Homo sapiens: one gene and its partner. The protein of the gene in region 2 purifies or fractionates together with the protein of the main gene of each other region. This does not show direct contact. Each region holds a gene or a part of one and is shown on either strand. Other genes may lie near its edges. The genes, in order: ECD and SMYD4.

Evidence for each region.
Region 1: the proteins of SMYD4 (region 2) and ECD purify together in Homo sapiens (affinity purification with mass spectrometry; one large-scale study listed by BioGRID and IntAct). This does not show direct contact.

What each region holds. Positions count from the first base shown.
Region 1 is NC_000010.11:73,140,502-73,144,321, reverse strand, and holds part of ECD (protein ecdysoneless homolog), read left to right. Parts: intron 1-2,836; coding exon of another isoform or gene 2,837-2,935; intron 2,936-3,820. UniProt on the Homo sapiens protein: Regulator of p53/TP53 stability and function. Inhibits MDM2-mediated degradation of p53/TP53 possibly by cooperating in part with TXNIP. May be involved transcriptional regulation. In vitro has intrinsic transactivation activity enhanced by EP300.
Region 2 is NC_000017.11:1,784,722-1,788,541, forward strand, and holds part of SMYD4 (protein-lysine N-methyltransferase SMYD4), read right to left. Parts: intron 2,884-3,820; coding exon 2,701-2,883; intron 2,253-2,700; coding exon 2,089-2,252; intron 1-2,088. UniProt on the Homo sapiens protein: Protein-lysine N-methyltransferase. Monomethylates PRMT5, modulating its transcriptional activity. May also act as a histone methyltransferase. Plays a critical role in cardiac development.

The DNA of each region.
Region 1 (3,820 bases), on a different chromosome or scaffold from region 2:
CTCTCAGTTTAGAATTGTTTTTAGCTCCTACGTATAATATCATAGACTTTCCCCTAATTTATCAGAGATTGTAATAGTGAAAAATTATAAGCAACCAAAGTATCCATCAATAATGGATAAATGAATTGCAGTGTACTTATATGATAGCCTGCTATCTAGTAGTTAACCAGAGATGAACTATATTTACATATATCTGATTTAGGATTTTTCAACCTCAGTGCTACTGACATTTTGGATCTGATAATTTATTGTGAGGGACTGGCTTGCACTTCATAGGACATTTAACAGCATCCCTGGCCTCTATCCAGTAAATATCAATAGCACTTCTCCCTCATCCCCCAATCATGACAACCAAAAATGTCTCCAGACATTGCCAGAGGTACCTGGGCGGCAAAATCGTCCCTGGTTGGGAACCACTGATCTAAATGGGAACCACTGATCTAAATGAATAGATTTCAAAAACATAATGCAGTGAAAAAAAAAAAAAAAGCAAGTTATAAATACGTACAGTAATGGGTACCAAAAAAAAAAAAAAATAGAACGAATGAGTAAGACCTACTATTTGATAGTACAACAGGGTGACTATAGTCAATGATAACTTAATTATACATTTAACATAGAGTGTAATTGGATTGTTTGTAACTCGAAGGATAAATGCTTGAGAGGATGGATACCCCATTCTCCATGATGTACTTATTTCACATTACATGCCTGTATCAAAACATCTCATATACCCTATAAATATATACACCTACTATGTACCCACAAAAATTAAAAATGAAAATGAAAAAGAATAAAATATATACCGTGTGGATGTTACACATATAAAAATTTTAAATATACAAAATACTATACAGGCTGGGCGCAGTGGCTCACACCTGTAATGCCAGCATTTTGGGAGGCCAAGGCGGGTGGATCACGAGGTCAGGAGTTCAAGACCAGCCTGGCCAATATGGGAAACCCTGTCTCTACTAAAAATTCAAAAATTAGCTGGGCGTGTTGGCACGCCCCTGTAATCCCAGCTGCTCGGGAGGCTGAGGCAGGAGAATCGCATGAACCCTGGAGGTGGAGGTTGCAGTGAGCCGACATCGCACCACTGCACTCCAGCCTAGGTGACAGAGCAAGACTCCGTCTCAAAACAAAACAATACATTATTTATAGATACATATATATTCATTTATTCAACAAATATTTATTGAATGCCTCCTATGTGCCAGGCCCTATTCCAGGTACTGGGGATATAATAAATGAACCCAAAGTGTCCTTGTCCTTATAGAGCTTACATGCTAATGTAGGAGAAAGACCGCAAGCCATTATGTAATATTAGGGGGTGGTAAGTGCTATGAAGAAAAAGCAGTGTGTGGGGTAGAGGGGTAGAGACTGCTCTTCTAGATAGATTAGTCAAGGAAGGCCTTTCTAAGGAAGTTTTCTTTGAAAAGAGACCTGAATGAAGTGAAGGAGTGAGACATTCAGTTATTTAGGGGAATAACATTCCAGCAAAAGGACAGACAGCAAATACAAGAAATAGAAACAGAAATATATATACATACAGAGAGAGAGAAAAGTGCCGAAGTATACTTGAGAAAGCAGTCACCTCTGGGGAGCAAGACAATGGATTGGGATGGGTGGCAGTGGTCATCAAAGGAAACATTAGCTTTCTCTACAATTTTTTTTTTTTTTTTTTTTTTTGAGATGGAGTCTCTCTCTGTCACCAGGCTGGAGTGTAGTGGCACGATCTCAGCTCACCGCAGCCTCCACCTCCCGGGTTCAAGCGATGCCCCTGCCTCAGCCTCCTGAGTAGCTGGGACTACAGGCGCGTGCCATCATACCTGGCTAATCTTTTCGTATTTTAGCACAGACAGGGTTTCACCATGTTGGCCAGGATGGTCTCGATCTCCTGACCTGTGATCTGCCCTCCTCAGCCTCCCAAAGTGCTGGGATTACATCTCTACAATATTTTTAAGGTACATGATAAACCTATACACTTTTTTGTCAATTAAAAATAAACAAATAGGCCGGGCACAGTGGCTCACACCTGTAATCCCAGCACTTTGGGAGACCGAGATGGGTGAATCACCTGAGGTCAGGAGTTTGAGACCAACCTGGCCAACATGGTGAAACCCCATCTCTACTACAAATACAAAAAATTAGCCGGATGAGGTGGTGGGCACCTGTAATCCCAGCTACTCAAATTAAAAATAAATAAATAGCCAGGCACAGTGGCTAATGCCTGTAATCCCAGCTACTTGCTGAGATAGGAAGATTGCTTGATCCCAAGAGTCAAGGCTGCAGTGAGCTGTGATCATGCCACGCACTCTAGCCTAGGCGACAGAGTGAGACCCTGTCTTAGAAAAAGAAAAAAAAGAAACTATGCACAGAGATACTTATGTGTTGAGTGAGTGACATAATGGTGACATGATTTGTTACATAAATTGATGGCACCCTGTCTGAACTATTAAGAATGGATCAAATCAAGTTGTATAAAGGACTTGCTTTAATTGGATAAACATTTGCATACCTTGCAAAATCACGTAGGTGATGGGGAACTGTCTCTACTCTGTATTATTAATATGTAAACGTTACTAGGAGAGAGAATAAACCAAATAATCATAACAAAAGGCAAAATAAAAATCATTCTGGAATATCAAATGCTAAAGAGAGTCATAGTGAGAAGGTAATAAACTTTCACTAAGGTTGAAGCAGAGATGTTAAAAAAAGAAAGATAATGGAAGGCTTCAGGGAGGAGGTATTTGAGTTAAGTCTTAAAGAATGAGGATTTTTTTTCTTTTTATGGAGTCTCTTTTTTTTTTGAGACGGAGTCTTGCTCTGTGCCCAGGTTGGAGGTGCAGTGGCGCGATCCTGGCTTACTGCAAGCTCCACCTCCTGGGTTCACGCCATTCATCTGCCTCAGCCTCCTGAGTACCTGGGACAACAGGTACCCACCACCACGCCCAGCTAATTTTTTTTTTTTTTTTTTTTTTTAGTAGAGACGGGGTTTCACTGTGTTAGCCAGGATGGTCTCGATCTCCTGACCTCGTGATCCGCCCGCCTTGGCCTCCCAAAGTGCTGGGATTACAGGCGTGAGCCACCGCACCCGGCCAACGGAGTCTCGCTCTTGTCGCCCAGCCTGGAGTGCAATGGCACAATCCTGGCTCACTGCAACCTCCGCCTCCTGGGTAATACAGACTTTGCAAAAGTTAAAGAACTTCCCTGGGTTCTGGTTTTCTCATCTGTAAAACAGGATTATTACCTTCTATAATAGTAACAAAAGGACTCAATAAGAAAATGTATTTAAAGTGTTAGCATAGCATTTAATACATGCTAGATAAATTTTAATTGATGCTTTCCTTCTGGATCTTCTTTTCCTCGTATATAAAATATATATTATATGTATATTTTTATGTATTTTTAGTACGTGTTTTATATGTATATGTACTATTAACATAATACAACTGTATGTACATATATATACATATATAGAGAGAGACCCTGTCTCTGCATGTATGTATAGAAAGAATTATACGAGATCAGTGGCTTCATAATGATGTTCCATGGAGCCTGCTTCAGAGCCAAAAAGGAAGGCCAATTGTGTAGATCTCTGAGCTTCTATCCTCCAATTTATTTATTTTTATTTTATTTTATTTTATTTATTTATTGAGATGGAGTCTTGCTCAGTCGCCCATGCTGGGGCAGCTCACTGCAACCTCCACCTCCCGGGTTCAAGCAATTCTCCTGCCTCAGCCTCCCGAGTAGCTGGGATTACAGGCACGTGCCACAATGCCCAGCTAATTTTTGTATTTTTAGTAGAGACGGGGTTTCA
Region 2 (3,820 bases):
CACTTCTATAGCCCCTCTTGTCGCTTTTTGGGGCCAGGACTTTAGATGACAAACATTTCTTTTTTTTGAGATGGAGTCTCGCTCGGTCTCCAGGCTGGAGTGCAGTGGTGCGATCTCGGCTCACTCCAAGCTCCGCCTCCCGGGTTCACGCCATTCTCCTGCCTCAGTCTCCCGAGTAGCTGGGACTACAGGTGCCCACCACCAAGCCCGGCTAAATTTTTGTGTGTGTTATTTATTTTTTTTTTTTAGTAGAGACGGGGTTTCACCGTGTAAGCCAGGATGGTCTCGATTTTCTGACCTCATGATCCGCTCGCCTCAGCCTCCCAAAGTGCTGGGATTACAGGCGTGAGCCACCGTGCCCGGCCTTGATGACAAACATTTCTAGTAGTTATGAAAAAGTCCTCAGAAAACCAATAGAAGGCCAGGTGCGGTGGCTCACGCCTGTAATCCCAGCACTTTGGGAGGGCGAGGCGGGTGGATCCATGAGGTCAGGAGATCGAGACCATCCTGGCTAACACGGTGAAACCCCGTCTCTACTAAAAATACAAAAAATTAGCCGGGCATGGTGGTGGCGGGCGCCTGTAGTCTCACCTACTCGGGAGGCTGAGGCAGGAGAATGGCGTGAACCCGGGAGGTGGAGCTTGCAGTGAGCCGAGATTGCACCACTGCACTCCAGCCTGGGTGACATGAGAGAGACTCTGTCTCACAAAAGAAAAAGAAAAAAAAAAAAAAAAGAAAACCAATAGAAAGGCTGGGCGTGGTGGCTCACGCCTGTAATCCCAGCGCTTTGGGTGGTCGAGGCAGGTAGGTCGCTTGAGGCCAGGAGATCGAGACCAGCCTGGCCAACATGGAGAACATGGCCAACTCGTCTCTACTAAAAATACAAAGATTAGCTGGGCATGGTGGTGCATGCCTGTAATCCCAGCTACTGGGGAGGCTGAGGCAGGAGAATTGCTTGAGTCTGGGAGGTTGAGGCTGTGGTAAGCAGAGATCGTGCCACTGCACTCACTTCAGCCTGGATGACAGGGCAAGACCCCATCTCAAAAAAAAAAAAGAAAAAAAAAAAAACTAATAGAAAAAGGTGCTAGGTGCGATCGTCCTACATTTGACCTTGGGTCTCCAAGTTTAGCTTTCTAACACAACCGGCTCTGCCTTTCACTCATGACTCCCCTAAGAAGAATACGGCACTTGTGGCAGAGGGGAAACCTCCGAGGTGGACATCTGCTGTGTTTCAAAGGCCGATATCTATTTTCTCATTTGGCAACAGCAACCCAACCCAGTTTCTCATAAGGATCCCTCTCACCCTCAGTCCCATGGCCCTTGCCCTACAGCTGAGGGTGTGGCATGTGGCTCACATATGGCTCCTTCCTCTGGCCCAAATGGCTGGAGGAAAACTATGTCTAATTTTCCTCCAGCCACAGTTCTCAGGTCAATGAAACACAGTAACATCTCTGCCCAGGCTGCTGTTTGAGTGGCATGTGCTCTTATCCTCCTTGGCAGGAAATCCGCAGGCTGGGCTGCTGGCAGCCATCCTGCATCGTAAGAGGGAAGTCTATCTGAGGATGGGCTAACACAGAGAAAATGAAGCTGAGAGGGGTGGACAGAAAGCCCCTGGATCAAGCTGTATCTTAAGCAGCCTTATCCTGGAATTTTTCTCATAACATTTTTTTTGGTAGAGACAGGGTCTTGCTATGTTGCCCAGGCTGGTCTTGAACCCCTGGCCTCCAAGTGATCTGTCCACCTCAGCCTCCCAAAGTGCTGGGATAATAGGCATGTGTCACTGTGCCCAGCCTATCCTGGGACTTTTCAATGACTGACTTCAGCAAATAAATTCCCAGTCTCCCCCAGATCCCAAACCAGTTCAGATGGGATCTTCTGTCCTTTATAAAGGAAACATTACTAAATTGAACCTTTCCCTGTGGTTTCTCTGGAGGGGAACTAGTGTATGGGGATGACTGGCTAAAATGGAGGTGATATTACTGGTCTCAGCACTTACAAGTCCCTGATGGCTTCCTCCTAAACACTGATCACCCTTGGGGTGGAAAACTGACCTCCAGGAAAAGTGGAGGAGACAGAAGAGAGAATTACCTGCATGGGCGCTCCGCAACTGTTGCAACAGAATGCTTCCCACCTGGGCCCTGCAGCCATCCTGTGTGCCTCAGTTTGACAAGCTGGACAGGCGCAGTCAAAGAAATACTGAGACCTCAGCTTCTGCTGCCTTTCGGCAACCCCCATCCGGCTCTTGTGAGGCCCTGGAGGGAGATCACCGTCAGCCAATATTGAAAGCAAGAGAGAGTCAAACACTACGTAAAAACCTTCAGCTTAGCAGAGGGTCTGGACAATTACCTATCATGTGACAGCTAACCTTTACCCAAATATTTGTGGAACTGGATACTAAAATAAGCTTCCAAGTTGCTGAGACAGGAAGAAAGAGAAGCCAAGAAGTTGTTCCTAGCCCATTTTCAGAATAGGAAGTTTATAGTGATTAAACAGCGAGACATAGTTTAGCCGCAATAGGGCCCTAGCACGAAGGCCATTCCTTCCATCCTCCCTTCCTTGTTTTTGGCCTAAGTGTTCACTGCCTCTTCCAGGAAGCAGACAGTAGACAGGTGAAGTCACATGCCTGGTGGCTTGCTGACTTGCGTCCCCGTCCTTTTCTGTTGGAGAAGGGCAGGATGGCAGTGCGGAGGGATGGCTCACCATAGCAGTGGAGAATCTCTTGCCCCTTTCTAATCCGCTGTGACGCCCGGATGGTGGCGACAGTGCTAATGAAGGACACGCTGGTGTTGGGGCTACAGGAGTGGTTCAGGAGGCTGATAACAGGGAAGATGCCTGTGGCAAGGCGCACCTGCCTGCTGTCGGTAACGATGCTCCCTTTAGGTCCTGAAAGGGCAAGAGGAAAGAAGGAAAAAGGTGTCAGCACATGAGCCCTGGCCTTGCCCTCTGTTCCTCAGAAGATGAGCTGGGCAGCTAGGCCTGCAGCCCGTGTGAGTCATGGCTCCACAGCCAGATCCAATATAAATCAGATGGGACATGACTCACGGCAAGCTCCAGTCCCCAGGAAGCAAAGTGGATGAACGCACACAAAGTCCACTGGAGTCCTGGAACCTAACGACTGTGTCTCTACACCACGAAATAGCCAAAGATAAGAACTTATAAAGAAGTAATAAAAAAGGGATGATAAGTAGGGAGCGTTCTAGATAGTTTCATAATGTTCTCACATAGAAACCAGAGCCCCTGTTGAGGTGACTTCCCAAAGACTTTTAGAGCCCAAGGGCTTTTGTTTATCTGGTCTTTGGTTGGTTAACAGAACAAGCGACCTAGTTACTACCCCAAACTTTATATATTTAAGCAGGCCAGGCACCAGGGCTCCTGCCTGAAATCCCGAGGCTCACGCAGAAGAATTGCTTGAGCCCAGGAGTTCAAGGCCAGCCTGGACAACACAGCTAGATTTGGTCTCTAAAAAAAAAAAATTAAAATATTAGCCAGCTGTGGTGGTGCACACCTGTAGTCCCAGCTACTCAGGAGGCTGAGGTGGGAGGATCAGTTGAGCCCTAGAGAGCGAGGCTGCAGTGAGCCAGGATTGCACCACTGCACTCCAGCCTGGGTGACAGAGCAGGCCCTGTCTGAAGAAAAATAAATAAAAATTTAAAAAAAGTTTTACTCTAATTGTAACATTTATTATTTTTTTCTTTTTTGGTCTTTTCAGGCCCATAGTTTACTTTAAAATTTTGTTCATTTTGGCCGGGCGCGGTGGCTCACGCCTGTAATCCCAGTACTTTGGGAGGCCGAGGCGGGCAGATCACAAGGTCAGGAGATC